Homo sapiens: one gene and its partners. The protein of the gene in region 2 purifies or fractionates together with the protein of the main gene of each other region. This does not show direct contact. Each region holds a gene or a part of one and is shown on either strand. Other genes may lie near its edges. The genes, in order: KIAA1549, PLEKHM3, ATAD3C, KIF1A, XPO4 and MGAT5B.

Region 1 (3,500 bases), on a different chromosome or scaffold from region 2:
CTCAAATGAATGCCTCCACTCTTGCCCTAGATCCCATCCCTTCCAAGCCCCCAGGAGCTTTCACTCCTGCCCTCTCTGCCTCCCTTTCCAACCCCACCCCAGACTGGCTTCTTCCTAGCCCTCACCTGCACAGATGGCCTCCACCTTACCACTCCCTCTTCCTACGTTATTTCACTCCTTGCACACACACAGCACCCTTCATGCCGCAGAAGCTGGCCCTCTGAGGGGCTGGGTCCTACCCAGTCAGCGGCTGTCACAACAAAACCCACCCCCTAGGGTTGAGAAACCGTCTTACAGCTGGACCTCAACCTCGAGAGGGCAAAACTCAGCCTCCAAATCACATCACTTCCCTTCTCTTGCTGGAAAGATCTTCTCGGTCCCTTTCAGTACCAATATGTGGAATATTCTGCACCTTCCATGCCCATTTTCCCACATCCTAGACACCCAACTCCTGCCCTGTACACCTGCTATCTGAGCACACAGGCTTTGACTCAGACGTGGAGCGTAATGAAAACCATGGGGGCCACTGCAGACAGTCAAGCAAGGAGGAAGGGACGTGACCTGTTCCTAGCAGGCCCTTCCTGCTGAAGGTGGAGGATGAACTGGAGGAAGTGAGAGGAGAAGTAGAGGTCGTGACAGTCACCTGGAGAAAAGAGGATGGGAGCTTGAATGAGGGCAGTGGTGGCAGCGATGGTACAGCAGAAACATTCAAGACGGACTTCCTCCCCTCCCATTCACAGTCCTCTGGGAACTTTCTTTCACTCACTGAGGGGCTGGTGCCTGGCTCACAGTCCTTTCTTCCTCTCTCCAGGCAAGTTCAACATCCACAGAAGTTATTCACCCCAAAGCCTTCCTCCATGTTCCACTTCAACAACTCATTCCCACCACTACACCCTACCCTGTTCATTACCCAAGACCAAAACTAGAGATGACCCACTTCTGAAACTCGGCACAATGACACCCCAATCCCTCCCGCCCTCCCCCACCTCTCTCTCAACACCTGCCCTGGGATCTCAGCTGCACCCCCTCCTCCCAGTCCCTTTCCCACTGCTCCAGCCACGGTTCACCTCCTACCTCATCCAGACCACCTCTTGCCAGCTCCTTCAATCCCCTTTGGCTCTTCACACCTGCCCTGTGATTCCCCATCCCTGACTCGGGCCAATGGCTCACCTTTCCCAGACACACTGGAACGTCAAGTGCTAGAGGACAAAAATCACACGGTGGGTTCCCTAACATCACCACAGATACCCCCATTACCTTGGACTTCACTCCCAACCTTCCACCAGTCCCTCCGATTCCTTCTCCCAACATTACTTCTTCCTAACTCTTCTTAGGGTGGTCCTGCCTGCCCAGGTGAACCTCCTCACTTTTGGTAAATTAGCCATGAGGTCCTTCCTTCTACTTCCTTAAATTGTCAACCACTGCTTTTGTTTTGTTTTGTTTTGTTTTTGAGATAGAGTGTCGCTCTGTCACCCAGGCTGGAGTAAAGTGGCACAATCTCAGCTCACTGTAACATCCGCCTCCCAGATTCAAGTGATTCTCATGCCTCAGCCCCCCGAATAGCTAGGATTGCAGGCACCCGCCACCACACCTGGCTAATTTTTGTATTTTTAGTAATGGCGGGTTTTCACCATGTTGGCCAGGCTGGTCTCAAACTCCTAACCTCAAGTGAACTGCCTGCCTGGGCCTCCCAAAGTGCTGGGATTACAGGCATGAGCCACCGCGCCCAGCCCAGTCACTGTATTTTTACTGACTCTTGAAGCCTACAAACACAATCAAGTCTAAAACATGTTTTTAAAACTTCCACCAACCCTCCTGCCACCATTAAGTTATAGGGAATAACTCAAACCTCACCAGGCCTAAGAATAACATAAAGAGCTTGTGGAACATTTCAAAAATACAAATCCTCAGGCATCACCTGTTTCAGTAGAGCTGGCTTGACCATGAGTTGGGTTTTTAACAGGTGATTCTGATCAGTTGGCCCTCATCCCATCCTTCAAGAAACAGTTTGGTACAGTAGCATTTGACATGATGGATCACTCACCTAGAGGAAAACTCTCTCCTCCTCTCCTGGCTCTCATATCACTATTTTGTCATGATGGTCAGTTCCTCTGTATGCTCCTCTTTGTCTTCCCCTCTCCTTCACGCTAGTTTCAGGGTTTCTGTCCTCAGCTGCCTTGTCTACTAACTCTCCATGCTCCCCCCTCACTAGTGTCTTCCATATCTATGACTTCAACTACCATCAAGTACAACATTTAACAAGCTTTTTTTTTGTTTTAAGTTCTTGCTCTATCACCCAGGCTGGAGTGCAGTGGCACAATCCCAGCCCACTGCAGCCTCAACCTGCTGGGCTCAAGCAATCCTCCTGCCTCAGCCTCCCGAATAGCTGAGACTACAGGTGCATGCCACCATGCCCAACTAATTTTTGTACTTTTGTAGAAACAAGGTCTCACTATGTTACCCAGGCTGGTCTTAAACTCCTGAGCTCAAGCAATCCTCCCGCCTTGGGCTTCCAAAGTGCTAGGAACACAGGCGTGAGCCACCGCACCCAGCCTAACTTTTTTTCTAAGTACTGGATCTGGGATAGATTAAAAATCAATGAATGAATGTACAGGTGATAGTCAACACAGTTAACAGCAGTGGAGCACGAGCACTGACAGTCGGAAAGGGAGCTATTCTAATTTTACAGGTAAAGGATCTGAACAGACATTTCTCAAAAGAGACACACAAATGGTCAACAGGTAAAGAAAAATTGCTCAGCATCCCTAATCATTAGGGAAATGCAAATTAAAACCACAATGAGATAGCACCTCAAACCTGCCAGAATGGTCTTCAGCCAAAAAACTAAAGCAGAGTCCTTGAGGCACCTGCTGTGCTGAGCATTAACCCTTCAGTCACTGGATCTCGGTGAGGTGGAGGGTGGCGGTGGTCCTTGGGAGAAGAGTCCTGAAAGAGGGCAGGGAGGCTCAGGGTACTTGGGGGTGGGGAGCAAGGAATATTCAGTACAGCAGCTATTTACCAACTGCTATGGTAGTATCTCAGTGGTTTGGTTTTGTTTTTTGAGACAGAGTCTCATTTTGTTGCCCAGACTGCAGTGCAGTGGCGCGATCTCAGCTCACCGCAACCTTTGCCTCCCGGGTTCAAGCCTCAGCCTCCTGAGTAGCTGGGATTACAGGCACCCACTACCATGCCTGGCTATTTTTTTGTGTTTTTAGTAGAGACGAGGTTTCACTATGTTGGCCAGGCTGGTCTCGAACTCCTGGCCTCAGGTGACCCACCTGCCTCAGCCTCCCAAAGTGCTGGGATTATAAGCGTGAGCCACCACATCCAGACTGTATCTCAGTGTTTTTACAACCAGTCAAATGCTCGCAATGAATGAAAACAGCAGGTCTAGGGGACAATTCTAATCTAGTTGCCTGGTCAAATAAAATATGGTTCTTGCACACTATTTACACAGACTCAGTCCCAAAAGCAGGTGTCTCTCAAGGTCTCTGGAGATT
Region 2 (3,500 bases):
AGCCACAAGGAACTAGATTCTGTCAACAATCCCAATAAGCTTATAACTGGATTCTTTACCTGAGTTTCTATTAATAGATAAGAGCCCAGCCTGGCCACCACCTTGGTTTCAGCCTTGTGTGAGAGACTCTGAGCAGAAAACCCAGCCAAGCCCATCCAGTCTTCTGACCTTCAGAACTGTGAGAAAATGAATAGGTGTTGTTTTAAGCTACTTAAGTTTGTAGAAATTTGTTATGCAACCATAGAAAACTAATACAGAAAGAAAAATTGAAACAATAGCAAAGTATCATTTTTTCCAAATCTCAAATTAACATAAATTTTCAAAAATCCTCCTCAACAGTTAGTGTGCAGTGCAGCAGACACTTGCAAATGCTAGGAGGGATGCACACTTGCTGTAACCTTTCCGAACAGCTCATTGGTGAATGTATGAAAAGCCTCAATGATGCTCCTACCTTTTGACCCAGTTAATTCCACTTCTAGGGTCCATCCAAAGGAATTTATCAGAAATATTTTAAAAGTTAATGTTCAAAGATGCTCAATATAACTTTATTTAGGAAAAAACATATGTAATAACCTAAATGCCCCAAAATGGGAACAAATTATGGTGTCATCAATAGATACAGTGTTATATAGACACTAAAAAGGATTTTTTAATGAAGAAGTTTAGCAGTGTGGAAAGGTGTTACCAATGATTGCTAGGTGGGGAAAAATGCGTATCTATAGTAAGCTCTGAACTATGTTTAAAAAAACAAAATCTACATAAGGGCTGAAAGGGCCACAACGGGGCAGTGCTTTTTTCCAGTGGAGGGTGAATAGGCATTGTTTATTTTGCCTTTTATTCTCTTTCGTATTTTCAAAATGACAAGCAATGAACATGTAGTACTTATTTATAATCACAAAAGTCAATAAACATTATTTTAAAAGCTGTTAAGTCTCTACATTGTGGGGAATACAATGACTATAAAACATTGTACAGTCAAATACTGGAGATAATAAAATCCATAAATAATGTAATTATGTGGCAGAAAGTGATTTTTTAAAGAAAACAAGATATAGAAAACAAATTATAATTGAAAAGATTGAAAATAAAGTTGGAAACTTATTTCTCAGTAGGGTAATAAGTGAAAGCTTCATGGTAGAAGGATCGCTGAATGTCATATAGAAGTAATAGAAAAAGGAGGCACATGGCTGAATGTTCATTAAAAGTATTTGTTTTCTCATAGATTGATGGATTTAGGTTTTGGGCTATGGACCCAGGTTAATTATACTAGTGGAAAACAACTGTGAAGAATATGTAACCATTTACAGAAAAAAATGGTGCCTGATTAGGAAAACCAAGCTGGTTCTAGCCCAGTAACATCTTCATTAAAAAACATCCAAGGCTGATATTTACTGAATATTTATGAGATACTTGACATACTCTATTACAGTTTAATCTTGTATATAGCCTTTGCTTAAGACTTGAAGTCATTCATTTACATATTTAAAAAGTAGGCAGATAGACAGGTGCTAATTTAATTACTAGTTTCAAAAGGCCTGACTTTAATGGGAACTTGGAGAAGGTTAGACTGGGCAGTTTTTTTAGGATTCTTTATCTCTAGTCAGTTTCCAGCAGCATCAAGCTACTGCTGCTGTTACTTTTATTTTCCCATTGTCACCCTATCCTATTTCACCTCACCCTCTCCTCCAACACCCCTAGAAAAGTACAGAGAGTGTCTGTGGCCCCATTGGTTGCTGGCCAAAGGCTGATTTGCTTCAGCAAATGTTAACCCCTTAAAATAAAAAGTCTGGAGGGATATCTAGCAAGGAGTTTTTTTTTCTTCTTGCGTTCTCCTTTCAGAGTACATTTGGCATTTGGTTCATAAGGAACTGAACTACATCCTAGCTTGGAGTTTCTGATGCAAGCCAATTAATTCAGAGAACTCAGTGCTGAGTGAGAGCGTGATAAAAATGACCACCAGCAATAAATTCCATGCATTATGTTTGCTCTGTTTCATTGGCTACTGTGGGATCATACCAGACATTGAAAAACATGCATAATTTGCCTTCCTGCTGACAAGGTAAAAGTTTTATTTGTTCCATAAGTAATTAATCTTGATGACAGTATGAGTTATGAGCAAAAACCAAAGTCAAAATATGGAGGCAATTGCATTAAGATGTCAGGCATGCTGTTTTCATTAACATTTTGTTTGTTTTCGTACACTCATTAATTGTTAATCTGAGTTATGTGGTTCAAATAGAATCCTTCAATTATATGCCACATTTATGACCATGGTAGAGATTTACTTATCCAGTTCTCCTGACTAGTGTAACCAGTTTATAATTCAGTACAAACTAAAGCTCTTCTGTCTCGCATTAGCCAGTTTACCTGTGAATACTTACGTAACTGGGAAATTGTTAAATATCCACTTCACCTTGTGTTCTGTAGGTGTGATTATATAAATGTTGATTTTTCAGTCACAGAACAAAAAACATGTGTTGCAGGTTAGAAACATCAGAAATATAACTAGCAGATTTTTTGCTCCAGGAAATTAGCTGAATGATCTCCTCCTACATGCTCTTGATCCACTTTTACCTGCACTATAACATTTCCAGAACAACTTCTCTTCCACGTTCAGGGATTCATTAATTTGTTAATTCAGCAAGTAAGGATTGAGCACTTGTTTTGTGCCATGGCACAGTACTTGGAGCTAGGAATGAACAAGACAGGCACAGTCCATGCCTTCATGAAGCTTACAGTCTAGTGAGGGAGACAGACAGTAAACAGGCCATTTGAAAATAACTTGCGTGCTCACTTTGGCAGCACATACATTAAAACTGGAACAACACAGAGATTAGCATGGCTTCTGTGCAGGGATGACATGCAAATTTGTGAAGAGCTCTTTCAGATAATGTTAAGATGTATATGGTTTATACAAATGGTAAAAAATTATAAAGTTAAAAAAATAGCTTGAGATGCATAATAATGGAGGAAATCTGGGTGCTATGGGAGCATATAAGAGGCCATTCAAAATGGACCTGGAGGTCAAGAGAGATGTGATTCCTCGTCAAGGACTGGACAGCTGAATTAGACTTAGCCAGGTTGTGTGTGTGGGTGGGAGGTAAGGAGGGGACAGTGTTGATAAAGAAGATGAGGGTGATGGTGGTGGAAAACAGTGTTCCAGGCAGAGGAAACAGGATAGGTGAGAAAGCAAGTGGAAAATTCCAGGTTTGGTTTTGTTTTCAGACAGGGTCTTGTTCTGTTGCCCAGGCTGGAGTGCAGTGGTGTGATCATAGCTCACTGCAGCCTCAAACTCCTGAGCCCAAGCGATCCTCCTACCTCAGCCTACTGCATAGCTAGGACTATAGGTTCACGCCCCCATGCCTGGTTAACTTTAAATTTTTTTTTTTTGTAGAGATGGGGGTCTCACTATGTTGCTCAGGATGGTCTTGAACCCCTAGCCTCCAGCAGTCCTCCCATCTTGACCTCCCAAAGTGCTGGGATTACAGGTGTGAGCCACC
Region 3 (3,975 bases), on a different chromosome or scaffold from region 2:
CCCGCGTCAGGAATAAGAACCCCTTCCCCTCCCTTGTCCAAGCGCTTGCCATTGCTCCATCTATGAGACCCCCCCTTCTATAGAAGTAAATTATCTAGCTGAGAAAACTTTATATTCGAGTTCTACTTCTTTGGTGGCACAGAAAATTTACATATAACACAGCTGCAGAGATCTCATCACTGCACTCCAGTCTGGGCGACAGTGAGACTCTGTCTCAAAAAAAAAAAAAAAAAAAAAAGCCAGAAAATGCCAGCCAGGCACAATGGCTCACACCCATAATCCCAGCACTTTGGGAGGCCGAGGTGGGCAGATCACCTGAAAACAGGAGTTTGAGACCAGCCTGGCCAACATGGTGAAACCCCCGTCTCTGCCAAAAATACAAAAATTAACCTGGGCATGGTGGCATGCGCCTGTAATCCCAGCTACTCCAGACGTTTAGGCATGAAAATTGCTTGAACCCTGTGTCATGTGCATCTGTGTGAAGAGACAACCAAACAGGCTTTGTGTGAGCAACAAGGCTGTTTATTTCACCTGGGTGCAGGCGGGCTGAGTTCAAAAAGAGAGTCAGCAAAGGGTGGTGGGATTATCACTAGTTCTTACAGGTTTTGGGATAGGCGGTGGAGTTAGGGACAATGTTTTGCGGGCAGGGGATGGATCTCACAAAGTACATTCTCAAGGGTGGGGAGAATGACAAAGAACCTTCTTAAGGGTGGGGGAGATTGCAAAGTACATTGATCAGCTAGGGTGGGGCAGAAACAAATCACAATGGTGGAATGTCATCAGTTAAGGCTCTTTTCACTTATTTTGTGGATCTTCAGTTGCTTCAGGCCATCTGGATGTATAAGTGCAGGTCACAGGAGATATGATGGCTTAGCTTGGGCCCAGAGGCCTGACACCCTGAAGGTGGAGGTTGCAGTGAGCCGAGATCACACCACTGCACTCCACCCTGGGCGAGCAAGACTCTATTGCCAAAAAAAAAAAAAAAACAGACCAGGCACGGTGGCTCAAGCCTGTAATCCCAACACTTTAGGAAGCCGAGGCAGGAGGATTGCTTGAGCCCAGGAGTTGGAGACCAGCCTGGGCAACAAAGGGACCCTGTCTCTACCCAAAAAAATAAGAGAGGAGAAAAACCAAATGAGTTCCCCAGCCATAGTCAGACGCCCCTGACCCCCACCCCCACCCCATGGCTGTAATCAAGGTTTTGGTTATTTAGAGGTACAGTCTCACTCTATCATCCAGGCTGGAGTGCAATGGTGCGATCTTGGCTCACTGCAACCTCTGCCTCCCATGCTCAGGCGATCCTCCTACCTCAGCCTCCAAGCCAAGAAGCTGGGACCACCGGCATGTGCCACCTGGCCCTTTTTTTTTTTTTTTTTTTAGAGGGAGTTTGACTCTTGTTGCCCATGCTGCAGTGCAATTCCATGGTCTCAGCTCAGTGCAACCTCCACTTCCCGGGCTCAAGTGATTCTCCTGCCTCAGCCTCCTGAGTACCTGGGATTTCAGGCACTTGCCACCACGGCCGGCTAATTTTTTTTTTTTTTTTTTTTTTTTTTTTTTTTTTTTTAGGAGAGATGGAGTTTCACCATGTTGGCCAGGCTGGTCTGGAACTCCCGACCTCAGGTGATCCACTCTCCTTGGCCTCGCTGAGATTCCAGGCGTGAGCCACCGCGCCCAGCCCCATCATCAAGGTTTGCAGGGACTAGCTGCAAAGCGCGGGCAGGGGCGGCATCTATTTGAAGCCGCTGTGTCTGTTTCGCGTGCACTTCCCTCCACCGTGTGTCTGGCCACAGGCAGCTCTGGCGGAGGGGAGGGAGGCGAAGGGGCACCCGCGTATGCACGGCCTCAGGATGGGGCACGGGCACCCGGCCCCGCCGTGGCAGCCACCTCCTGTGAAGCCCACCCCTCTGTGGTTAAATCCTCCAGAAAGCCCCAGCTTCTGCCTTTTCTGTCACCTTTGACCCCAGGGGGACGTTAGGGGGCCCCAAACCCCGCCCCGTGTCAGCCAATAGACACAGCGGTGCGGCCCCCGTGGGACTTTATTACGGGGAGTATTTCCTAAATGTGCGGGGCCGCAAAGGCAGGGGTGGGAGGGGTCCGCGGCCAGGCTCCGTGAGGTGTGGTCTCCCCATGGACTCAGGATGAGGGTTGCTCGTCCTCGGGCCCAGGCCTCTCCCCCTTCAGCCAGCGCATCATCTGCTGGTGCTGCTGGACAAAGTCTTGCACGCAGGCGTCCATCATGGCCTCGGTCAGGACCCCGTCCTTGGAGGCATACGCCGTGGCCTAGTGGGGAGAGAGGGAGCTGAGGGAGGCCGCCATGGGAACCCCCCACCCCAAATGCACGCCAGGGCCCTGAGGTGGGGAGGGACCAAACCAGGGGCTCCAGGATGGCCTGAGCGTGAAACACAGGCTACCCGCACCTCGGCAGAGCCCAGCACGTGTGTGGACACCGGGGGCAGCCCCTGCAGTGCCCACAGCCCTGCCTGCGTCCTCAGCACCAATGTTGCTCAATGACTTTCTAATAGAAAGCCCAAGGCGGAGCCTCACTGACGGCCGACCCAGGGCAGCTTCCCAGAGGCAGGTGGGAACTGCAGACCCTCTGCGTGTCTCAGCCGTGGTCAGGCAGTGCCCCCGGGTCATAGTGCACCTCAGACCCTCAGACCCTGACCCTCACAGGCCTCCAGGGCAGAGGCAGCCACTGCCCACCTTGAGGCACGTGGCTGGTGGCACCAAGGCCACCTCTGCCCCCACCTCCCTGTCCTCCTGGGCACAGGGCTTGGCATCTAGCATGTGAAGGCTGGAGCTGCTGGGGCTGTGGCCCTTGGTGTGGCTTCAGGCAGCCTCAGGTCCAGCCCTTCTGCCATGGACAGGTCACTCTCCATCCCAATGCCAGCAAAGGGCATGGAGTCCCCAAGGGGAGGCACCCATGGGTCAGGGTGAGGGTGTGGGGACCCCCACTGGGCGCCATGCTCAAGAGCGCACCAGGACGCCTGGAGGAAGCACAGGGCAGGGGACCCTTCCCGGACAGCTGAGCGGGTCCCTAGCCCCATCCCAGCTATGCCTCCCAGAGGCAGGATTCATCTCACGGGGTGCAGGGGCAGCAGCACACCATCCTCCCACAACACCGTCACCACGATAGAACCTGCCATGGGGATGACCACGTGGTGCCCGTCCCCTCTGCCAGCGCCCATCCCTCACCAAGAGCCACTGTGTGGGGAGACACTGACCGGAGCCGGACCACCACTGTGGGTCGGGGGCCCGGGAGCGCAGGAGACACTGACCGGAGCCGGACCGCCACTGTGGCTCAGGGGCCCAGGACTGCTCAACATCATTTTTGGTCTTGAGCCCACCCAAGAGAGGGCAAACAGGTGCAGGGACCCTCAGGGTCCACCCGAGTGGCTGCACCTCACCCAGGGCCCAGCAGAGGAAAGGGGGTGAGCAGATGCTCACGGAGCCACCCCTCCAGGAAGCACGGGACCTGGCAGGAGCCCACCAGAAGTGACAGCTAAATGTCACGTGGCCTCCTGGGTGGGATTCTGGGGCAAAACCTGGTCGCGGGTGGGTCCAACAGTGACACATGATGTTCACCACGTGGCAAGGTCCCAGGCCCAGGAAGTCTCTGTGCTACTCTTGCAACTTTTCTGGGAACCTAAAATCTTCAAACTATAAAAGTTGAAAGACAAGACCTGGACCTGATGTCTTCACATGTGAATTCACAAAACATTAAGAAGAATCAGTACCACTCCTCAAACTCTTGGACAAATTGAAGAACATTTCCTCACTCATCCTAAGAGGCCAGCATTACCCTCATATCAAAGCCAAAGACACCACAAGAAAAATGACATGCCAATATCCCTGATGAGCATCGTTGGAAAAGTCGTCAAGAAAATGCCAGCAAAACGAATTCAGGAGTATAATAAAAGGATTCCACACCCTGACCAAGCAGGATTTATTCCTGGAATGCAAGGACAGTTCAAC
Region 4 (3,500 bases), about 33 Mb from region 2:
GTGTGGAGGTTTCTGCACATGTGCTCCACACCTGCAATCAGCTGATGGAAATCAAGGAGGCCCCCAACGGTGGGGTGGGCCTCATCCAAGCAGGTGAAGACCTAAGAGCAAACTGGGGCTTCCTCTGAGGAAGAAGAAACCCAGCGGATGGAGTCCACTCCTGCCAAGTTCCCACCCTGCCCCGAGTTCCCAGCCTGCCCCGAGTTCCCAGCCTGCCCTGAGTTCCCAGACTGCCACCTGCCCATGGATTTCAAACTTCGCTGACCAGCCCCACCATCTGATAAGCCAATTCCTTGAAATAAATCTCTTTATACCTAGACATGGTTGTACGTTATCTCACTACATCTCGGTACATGTCTACAGCCATGTCTGTGCATCAGGCTGCTGCTGTTTCTCTGGCAGAACCCTAACTGCGTGGGCAATAGTCACACACCACTCAAGAGGGCCCCCTGTCTGACTGTCTGACTTCTCTAAAGAAGGGACTTTATGCCACGTGTGCCTGCACGTGTTTGAACATCACAGACACTGCAGTGTCTGGGAACAGAGCCCAACCCCACCCGGGGTGCTGCATTCAGAGACTGGAGCAGCCCACCCCACTGAGCTCCACAACACCTCAGCTCTGGGAAGCCCTTGTCCACTGCCCTGTATCCCCCAGACCAGCCCGACAGGGCAGAGTCCTGGGCCAGGAGGCAGGAGCTTCTTCCTAGGCAGGCACACCCTGGCTCCTCACTCAGCCCACAGCACGGACTCAGTGTCTCGGGGCCCCTGTGTTGTGTGAATGGGGCCTGTAGTGCTGTGTTCCTGGAGTTGGGGGACTGGGGAGGCACATGAGCTGCTTGGATACCCGCAGCCCCCTCCCCTACCTGCCCAGCGGCCCTTAAGAGCTGCCATCCCGCACAGTGCACAGGAGGCGGTGGCTTGGACATGGGAACAGAGGCCTCGCCTCATGCCTCTGCCTACCTGACTGGCCCCCGGAGTCCCCAGCCATACCTGAACGCAGGATGCTGGGCTCTGTGACTTTCTTGCCATTGACGTAGGTGTCTGCCCCCTCACAGGGCTCCAAGGTCACCACAGCTACAGGAAAGGTGGGAGGGGCAGAGAGGAGGACTATGAGGGGCTGTCACCTACAGCAGCTCGGCTTACCTGGCCCCCGGGCATGGCCTCTTCCAAGCCTCTCGCCTCTCTTTTCCCTGCTACACAGGCCGTGACCATTGGCAACACTCATTTGGGCCTCAGAGGAGCTTAGGGGTCTCACCCCACTTAACAGAGGAAGAAAGTGACCCCCAGAAGGAGGATGCATGTGCCCACGTTGAAGCCAAGAGGCTGTGCTGGGCCTAATCACCCAGGGCCCTGTCCAGCTCCCCAGGTGGACAAGGATAAAAACACCAGCTAATGGGGCCTGGGCCGTCCCACAGGAGAGGGTAGGCAGGGCTTTGCAGTCAGAGAATTCCAGGAGAGCCAATCGTCCCAACACCACTTAGGGCCATCACCCTGAGGTGGCCAAGTTGGACAGTGGGTGTCAGTCACAGGTCTGCAGGCCAGAGGCTGGCTGGATGCTGCCGGGAGATGCCCTTAGCCTGGGCTGTGGGCCATGTGACGGCACACTGACACCACAGGCCCATCCCCAAGTTGGGCAGCACCAGGCAATGGGGACAGCCCCACGTCATCTCCAGGAGGGAGACCACTGGGCAGGCAGGGGAAACGGACAGATGGCCGCCCACAGCCAACAGGAAACCAAGGTCTGGAAATAGTTTTCCACCCTAGATCTGGGCTCAATCCTCATGGCTCACTGTCCTCCCGCCATGAACATCCTCCACCCTGGGCCCCAACACGCTTCCCGGCCAGCAGCCCACCTGTGCCCCCACCTCCAGCCCTCAAGGAGGCTCAGCTCCCTAAGGCAGCAGCTACCCCTGGCCACAGAAAGTACCAGGCATTTTCCCAAGCACCAACCTAATGGAAGTTGTTTTTAAGGCTGGCCCCAAATATCTCTCTCTCTCTCCAAATCTCTCTCTCTCTCTCTCTCTCTCTCTCACACACACACACACACACACACACACACACACACACGTCCTGCCTAGAAGTATGACTCGCGACCCACTTAGTGCTGGGTAAGCTGGGAGAGGGTGACCTCATTCAGGCCTGATCATCACGGCACAGGGGCATGGGTGCGGGTAGGGACGGTAGGGTGGTGATACCTTCGCTGCCTCCCCTGGAGTCGCTCCGGAAGACGCAGTGCTCCTCCTTGATGAAGTGCCCACTCAGAACAATGTCCTGCCGCCTCTCGCCATCCTCCCTGCCCACTCTGCGGGGTGGGGGCACCATCAGCACGGCAGCTGGGACCCAATACACCCAGGACGCCACCCACTGGCCTCCAGGGACGCCCAACCAGGATTGTTTGGGAAACACCCAGCGCAGACATCAGTGGGGTCGCTGGGGAAGTCCAAACTCAGTGGCCCCTCTGCAGAAGCAGGAATGGGGAGTCCAGCCTTCCCCTGCCAGATCCCAGGGCCTGGCCAGGCTGGAGTGGCTGCCAGGTCCCCTCTCACCTGGTGATCCCATCCTTGATGTAGTAGAGCAGGCACTCAGACATCAGCGGGTCCTCGTTCAGGTTGACGAGGTGTGGTGTCTGCAGGGAGACAGGAGGATCATCTCTCTTGCAGAGGGGCAGGAGCCTGATGCTGGCCACACCCCCCTCCAACCTCTCTCCAGGCACCAGACTACCACCAGGGTCCCTGCCCCCGCACTTGGCTGGTGCCACCAGGCTGGTCACTCCAAGCCAGGAAAATGAGGAACACAGAAAGCTCAAGCCGAAGGCCCAGCCCACCAACAGCAGCAGGCCGGTGGGACCCGACCACCCGCATACACCCAAGCCTGGCACAGCAGCCCCAGCACTGCAGCAGAAGCTGAGCTTCCAGAAGGGCAGACAGCCCCAGCTCTCAGCATGTGGGGGCCCTGGGGCCCTCTGAGGCTGGGGTGAGCCCCCAGATGTGCAGACCACAGGCTTTGTCCCATGGGGTCCTGGGTTCCCAGCTTTGGACTGTAAAATGGGGTTCTAGGACCCCATTCCAGCTCAGACAGCCCAGAAACCATGGGTTCACCAGTGGGAGCCAAGAGCCAAGAAGGATCAGGACACTGACCATGGAGGGCTCAGCCCTGGAGTCTGGGGAGTGAAGCAGTTGTGAAGGGATCCTTGATGAGCCACCTGAGGCACCCCCATGCAGAGAGGTGGAGACCTCGTCACTGGACGAAGGGGACAGACCATCCCCAGCTGTCCCTGCCCCCTGAGTGGGGAAGATGTCCAGCCAGGAGGGGCTGTGCCCACAGCTTTGGGGCTGAGTAGGGGCTACAGCCTTGGGACCCCACTGGCCTGTGCACGTCTCGTGATTCCCAAGAACACTGAACTTCTCAAGAAGGGGGTCCCCAGTGGTCCCACTTCTGGGCAGTGCCCAGACCCAGGGCAACCAATAAAGCTGCACCCCTGGAGTTCCACCCTATCCCTC
Region 5 (3,500 bases), on a different chromosome or scaffold from region 2:
TCTAACAGAGATGGCCACCCTGAAAGACCCAAATAATGGTGCTGGAAAGGACACTGTCAAATACTGTCAGGTAGTTTTGCTACTGAGGCAGCCACTCATCCAGCACAAGGACTATAAAAGCAAATCAATCCTTTTAACAGAACAAGAACACAGTTACAGGTGCTACCACATTAACAGACTGTGAAAGTACAAAGTCTTTAGTGATTGTGCCTTGGGAAATAAATGGGTCAAGGAAAATAAAATGAGAAACAAACAAAGGATGTATGGAAAACTAGAGGTTAAAGGATACTATATGAACAACAGAAATTTTATAAAACAAAAATCTAAAAATGAAATACTTGACAGTGTCCCTTTGACATATATAAAAGAGGGCACAAATAATGTTTTTGTTTTAAAAAATATTTTAACAACAGTTTTAATAGAAAAAAAATCAACTGACTTGAATTAAGCCAGTGTTCTTGACACCCACTGGGCCAAGAGCATTAAAACAAAACAAGACCGGAGAAGTTAATAAACACAGCTAAAGACAAAATTGGACAAAATAAAACAAAAGAAAACACAAAGTGAATAAGCATCCAATCAGGCAAACATGGACACAACCACCCTGAAAAGGTCTAGCCGTTGCAACTCAGTGGCATCCCCATCACCTAAAAAATGGTAGTGGCTTCTCCCCACCCCAGTGAGCTAATATTCAACATTCTGCTGATCTTATAAGTATTATTTGGTCCAATCTGAAGAAGGTCTTTTTAAACTAAAACTAGTCTAATGAAATTACACCTCAGGAATATGGAGGTGAAATTTTCTATTTTTAGTATTGTAATAGGATCTGGGCAAATTTTGCAAATATGTTGCCATCTGGATAAAAGTTATTAAATATAGATGCCTTTTTACTTACCAAGGCATTCCTTTCCCACTCCTCTTTAGTTTTAATAACTTGATTATAGTTTTGTCATGGCGCGTGGACCTGTCCAGTCAATTGTGTGTTTCAGTGCCCTTTGGTAAAGAGACTGTACTTAGCACACACACAGATACACATAATTCACAACAGCTGAGAAAGCTTGAGGGATCTGGGAAACACAAAACACCAAGAACAATGCAAAACAAATAGATTACTGCTGCATATCACTTCAAGTTTTTTAAGGGGAAAAAAAAAACACCTAAAAATAAATGCATCAAAGTATTTTTTAAAATACAGAAACGTGTACTTCTGGATGACTGATATTAATTTCCTTCCTAGCAGTCTTTTCAAGATGTTTTTGCTTCCCCTTAATTGTGACTCAAAGCTAATCAAATTGAGAGAAATGTAAGTTATGGCCCAAGGCCCTGCATTCACATCTACCTAACATCACATGCACAGGTTGGATGTAATTCAGATGCTCCAGTTTTGTTAACTGTTAATAACACAGAATTATACAAAGTTTTGCACAGCATCACATGTAATGACACATATGCTATATGCAATCAGGTAGAAAAACCGTATTTGCAGAATGGTTTAATAGATAGGTGTCAGGAACATGGTGGAAGCAGAGTTTCATGAGTGCACCTGTGCCAGAGTCCTCTACCTGTCACTGTGCTGTGAAAGTACTGCAATGAGTGGAGTTTCATATGCCTGCTGTGTATAAATTAGCTTTCATTTCCACATTGTAAGCTGGCACACTGAATTAGGGGAGCCTGGCAGCTGTATAAAAATCCTGATTAAGAGATCAAACTAGAGGATCTAAAGTGAATTTTTAATCTCTGAAATTAAATTCACTGGCTCCCATGTCTGGATAAGAATTATTGCCCCTAATGCCCCAACGTGCAATAGTCTGTGTGAATCAGTGATTCACATCCTTTAAAATAATTATTGCTTAAGCAAGCCATTTAGAGTAGATATGGGCTATGTGGCTGGATAGAAACACACTCAAAAAGTTAGACTAGACGGAAACAAGCCTTTCATTTCACTGATAAACCTACATAAATACACGATCGAAAGGGGCAACAGGTTCATAGCAGCTAACACCCTAAACCAACTCTGAAGCATCAAGACGTGGTTTCTTACTAAAACAAATCAGCTGTTTTTGTATTTTCCTCTTAAAATTAAGGCAATGAAATGGCTACAGTTCCTAAGGTTATTTTTACGGAACAAAAATATACATGTATTTTCCTCCTCAAGTTCAGGCATCAGAGTATGATTAGTGACTTGTATTACACAAAACCTGCAGCACTGGGTTGATGTGAGAGAGAGAGAGAAAAGAAAGAGAGAGACAGAAAGCAAGAAAAGCAAGAAAGCAAGCAAGCAAGAAAGCAAGCTAAGAAAAAGCCAACAAACCCCTGGTGATGTTTCCCCTTCCTGCTGAATTATAAAACCCAATCATCAAAGGGAGGAAAAGCTAGAAAGCACAAAACCTCTTAAGAGTTTTCAATGTCTCTTTCATTGATTCAAAACTTTTGGGGTGACGAAAGGGAGAAGCTTATTAACATGAAGACTCCTGGGCCCAACAACCAGACATTCTGACTCTGAAGGTCTACAGTTGGGCCTAAGAATCTGCCTTTTCACCAGCTCCTCAAGTGATGCAGGCGATCTATGGAGATTTTGAGAAACACTGCCTAGCATATATCCATTTCATATTTAATGACAAAAATTCTAAACTTTGGCTAGCCACCTATGTTAAAAGGAAAAAAGGCACTGCATATGTATTTCGTGGTGCCCATATCTGTTTGCACATATATGGAATTTCATTTTGAAAATTTTAAATCACCATTCAGAATCTAAAAGACATATATATGACAGATTGTGGCTAACACTTAACAGCAGAAGCTGATGCCAAGTTGACCTCTCCTGTTTCACTGTATTACATACATATCAAAGTTTCAGGCTCTCCAAAATCCAAAATGGCCAAATGAACTGAGGAATAGGACAAGACTCAAGTCAACTTTCAGCAATTCAGTGCACTTTGCAGAAAGGATCTAAATTAAGCATAAAGTTCTGTTGTTTATTTTACACAAAGGAGACCACCAACATTTGCCATAAATTCTTCTAAACTCTTTAAGAAGGCCATCTTCTGCTTCCGATCCAGCGTAGGAGGAGTGCTGCTTGCAGTGAGCTTGTTGAAGGCATCTGCTAATCTCTGGTAAATAACTGGGTCTTGCTGACTTGATAGTAATGTTTCGACCAGTTCAGAATATTCAGCCTATTGAAGAGATAAAGTATACACAAGTATCCTCCTTAGAATATCATACAAGTAGATCTTATCAGTTACTGGACTGTGGGGTTCTAAAAGGCAGGGACACATTTTTAAGAGTTAACATTTAGAATAATTCAGCATTTAAGTACTACTGTTTGAAAACCTTTTACATGGATTAATTCATCTATCATTTACAACAATGCTTCGAGACAGGTACTGTTTCTATTCCCATTCCAGAGGTGAAGGTTTCGACACTCAGTGAGGTGAAGTGATATGGCCCAGATCAAGCAAGAGTCCACCAATCTAGCCCCAAGACCCATGTGATAATCAACT
Region 6 (3,500 bases), on a different chromosome or scaffold from region 2:
TCAGAAGATGTGGACCCAGTCTCAGGTTGGCCATTAACTGGCTGTGGGACACTGGGAAAGGCCCCGCCCCTCTCTGGCCCTGAAAACCTATGAATGGCAGAGATTGGACTAGAGCAGAGGCTTCAGGATTACTTTTAGCCATGAAACTGTTTTCTTTCCAAAGGAACCCTATGGGGACCAACATTTAAATGGATTCACGTGGTGCCACTTGGCATCTGCTGAACCCCTAATGACCTCTAAGCTCCTCTGAGGAGCTGTGGAGCTCTCTGTAGTCCATTCATCCATCTCTCTCTCTCACCCATCCCATCCATCCTATCCATCCATCTACCCACCATCCATCCATGCACCCACCATCCATCCATGCACCCACCATCCATGCATCCATCCATCCATCCATTTGTCCACCTGCCCATAACTCTATGCGTCCACCCACCCATCCATCCATTCACCCATCCATCCCTCTCAAACATCCACCCATCCACTCATCCACCCACCCATTCATCCATCCATCCCTCTCACACATCCCTCCACTCACCCATCCACCCATCGACTCATCCATCTATCCATCCATCCTCTCATTCATCCATCTTATCTGCCCATCCCTTCTTTCACTGAAGGAGGGGGACCTCTGATGGAAGCTCCATATTTGGAATTAGAACTCAGAGGAATTCCACCCTAGAGAAAAGGATGAAACAGAGCTAGACCAGTCCTTGCAGGGGCTGAATCCATTTTGTCTTAATCACCATATTGATCAAGGTGATCCGAGATTGCTAGGGCCCCCAGCTATAAGCCAAGAGTAAAAGTAAATTCTCTCTGGAGTAAAATAGAGTCATCCTTGATCTTAAATTATCTCTACAATTTTTCATATTCATTTTCCAGAACTCAAAAAAAAAAAAAAACATTGAAATCCCAATCAAACTCCCAGTACTTTTTTGTAGAAATTGATAAGCTGATTCTAAAACTCATTTGGAAATGCAAAGAACCTAGAATAGACAAAACAACTTTGAAAAAGAACACAGTTAGCAGGCTTATATTACCGATGTCAAGACTTCTTATAAAGCTACAGTAATCCAGATAGTGTGGTATTGGCATCAAGATAGACAAACAGATCAATGGAACAGAATACAGACTCCAGAAATAGACCCACACACAGTGTGGTCAACTGATTTTCGACAAAGGTGCAAAACATTTCAGTGGAGGAAGGATGGTTTCATCAGTAAATGGTCATGAAACATGATATCTACACGCAAAAACGTAAAAGAACTTTTTACTTATTATATGTAAAAGTTCATGCAAAATGGATCACAGACTTAAATGCAAAACCTAAAACTATAAAACTTATACAAAAAAACAGGAAAGAAATCTTTGTAACCTTGGGTTAGACAAAGATTTCTTAAATACAACACCAAAAGCACAATCCCTAAAAGAAAACACTGGACTTCATTAAAATTAAGAACTTTTCTCTTTGAAAGACATTGTTTTGTTTGTTTGTTTTTGGGACAGAGTCTCCCTCTGTCGCCCAGGCTGGAGTGCAGTGGTGCGATCTCGACTCACTGCAACCTCCGCCTCCCAGGTTCAAACAATTCTCCTGCCTCAGCCTCCTGAGTAGCTGGGACTACGGGCGCACGCCACCACACGTGGCTAATCTTTTGTATTTTTAGTAGAGATGGGATTTCACCTTGTTAGTCAAGCTGATCTCAATCTCCTGACCTCGGGATCCACCCCGCCATGGCCTCCCAAAGTTCTGAGATTACAGGCGTGAGCCACCGTTCCCGGCTGAAAGACACTGTTAAGAGAAAGACAAGGCCAGGCGCAGTGGCTCATGCCTGTAACCCAGCACTTTGAGAGGCTGAGGCGGGAGGATCGCTTGAGCCCAGGAGTTTGCGACCCGAATGGGCAACATAATGAGACCCCGTCTCTCTGTCTCTATCTACATATATATATATATAATGTATATAATATATAGTATATATAATTATATAATATATAATATATATAATGTATATATAATTATATAATATATAATATATATAATGTATATAATATATATAGTATATATAATGTATATAATATATAGTATATATAATTATATAATATATATAATATATATATGTTTAAAAAGAGAGAGACAAGCCACAGACTAGAAGAAAATATTTATAAAGCATATATTTGATACGAGACTTGGATCCAGGATATATAAAGAACTCTAACAACTCCATAGTAAGAAAATAAACAACCTAATATTTTCAATGGGCAAAAGTTTTTAAAAAGACACATCACCAAAAAAAAAAAAAAAAAGATATATGGAAGACAAATAAACACACAAAAATATCTTCATCATTAGTCATTAGGAAAATGCTAGTTTAAACCACAAGAAGACACCATTCCATGCCTGTTAGAACGGCTGAAATTTACAAGACTGACCATCCCAAGCATTGATGAATTTGTTCAAGAATTGAAAGCCTCGTAATAACTTTTAAAAAAAGTTAAACACACTTCTACAGTATTAACCAGCCATTATATTCTTGGGCATTTACCCAGGAGAAATGAAAGCATATGTTTCTACAAAAAATTGTACACGAACCAAAAAGGCTAGTCAAGACTCCCTGAGTTGGCTTCACAATTTATCCATGGGTTGCCACCTACGGATTGAAAAGTTCCACCCAAGCTCACCCAGATGACTGTCTGAGGGCCTGGAATGTTTCCTCCAGGGATGAGGGTGGGTTTGCCCCGGGCCTGAACCAGCTGCCTTTGCCTCCTTCCTGCTTCATTCCCTTGATCCTTCACCCCTCGCTTCCTGGGACTACACTCTACTAAAATAGCACCTAAGCCTTAGCCTCAGGCTCCACTTTCTGGGGAATGCAGAATAAGACAGACCCGCTTAGCACAAAGTTCACCCAACGCCTTGCCCTGGGTCCCCAGCTCCTGCTCCCTGGAAGGATGATAAATGACCTGACCTTCCATCTCCCCTCCTTCCTCCTCTGCTTCTCGGCCACCTGATCCCCTGTACTCTGGAAGGCATCTCTCCCAAGATGCTGCTTTCATTTTTCTCTCCATCCAGCCACCTCTGACTTCCTTTGGTTACAAACACCAGGGCAAAGATGTCTTTTTTTGGAAGCAGTTTCTTTGAGGTCTCTAGCTGAACAGGATTGCCTCGGGCTATCACAGAAGTTCCAGCGCTAGAGATAAAACGTTTCTCTTTCCAGACTTCATAACCTCTCATTCTCTTGGGCCAGTTTCTTAACAGCATTTTCTGATAAAAGTAGACCCTGTGTGTTCCACGACCCTCCGACTCTGCCCTCTTCTCCAGCACCCAGTGCCCACAGCTTCCCGGGCTTCCCTGCAGCTGTGGCAATCGGCATGGGGAGCCTCATCTCCCAGCTCCCCGCTCCACACCCCACAGTGACCTCTGACATCTCAGCAGAGGTCTTGGACCTTGATTCCTGCTTTCAAGCCTTCTCTCTGCCATTCTCCAAGGCTTCATAATGCTGAACAGGCTG

What was found.
Region 1: the proteins of PLEKHM3 (region 2) and KIAA1549 purify together in Homo sapiens (affinity purification with mass spectrometry; one large-scale study listed by BioGRID and IntAct). This does not show direct contact.
Region 3: the proteins of PLEKHM3 (region 2) and ATAD3C purify together in Homo sapiens (affinity purification with mass spectrometry; one large-scale study listed by BioGRID and IntAct). This does not show direct contact.
Region 4: the proteins of PLEKHM3 (region 2) and KIF1A purify together in Homo sapiens (affinity purification with mass spectrometry; one large-scale study listed by BioGRID and IntAct). This does not show direct contact.
Region 5: the proteins of PLEKHM3 (region 2) and XPO4 purify together in Homo sapiens (affinity purification with mass spectrometry; one large-scale study listed by BioGRID and IntAct). This does not show direct contact.
Region 6: the proteins of PLEKHM3 (region 2) and MGAT5B purify together in Homo sapiens (affinity purification with mass spectrometry; one large-scale study listed by BioGRID and IntAct). This does not show direct contact.

Annotation. Positions count from the first base shown.
Region 1 is NC_000007.14:138,971,390-138,974,889, forward strand, and holds part of KIAA1549 (UPF0606 protein KIAA1549), read right to left. Parts: intron 1-3,500. UniProt on the Homo sapiens protein: May play a role in photoreceptor function.
Region 2 is NC_000002.12:208,019,028-208,022,527, reverse strand, and holds part of PLEKHM3 (pleckstrin homology domain-containing family M member 3), read left to right. Parts: intron 1-1,839; exon of another isoform or gene 1,840-2,059; intron 2,060-3,500. UniProt on the Homo sapiens protein: Involved in skeletal muscle differentiation. May act as a scaffold protein for AKT1 during muscle differentiation.
Region 3 is NC_000001.11:1,466,689-1,470,663, reverse strand, and holds the end of ATAD3C (ATPase family AAA domain-containing protein 3C), read right to left. Parts: intron 2,281-3,975; coding exon 2,134-2,280; 3' UTR 501-2,133; downstream 1-500.
Region 4 is NC_000002.12:240,764,720-240,768,219, forward strand, and holds part of KIF1A (kinesin-like protein KIF1A), read right to left. Parts: intron 2,627-3,500; coding exon 2,547-2,626; intron 2,303-2,546; coding exon 2,196-2,302; intron 1,075-2,195; coding exon 991-1,074; intron 1-990.
Region 5 is NC_000013.11:20,780,747-20,784,246, forward strand, and holds part of XPO4 (exportin-4), read right to left. Parts: intron 3,174-3,500; coding exon 2,976-3,173; 3' UTR 1-2,975. UniProt on the Homo sapiens protein: Mediates the nuclear export of proteins (cargos), such as EIF5A, SMAD3 and isoform M2 of PKM (PKM2). In the nucleus binds cooperatively to its cargo and to the GTPase Ran in its active GTP-bound form.
Region 6 is NC_000017.11:76,934,404-76,937,903, reverse strand, and holds part of MGAT5B (alpha-1,6-mannosylglycoprotein 6-beta-N-acetylglucosaminyltransferase B), read right to left. Parts: intron 1-3,500. UniProt on the Homo sapiens protein: Glycosyltransferase that acts on alpha-linked mannose of N-glycans and O-mannosyl glycans.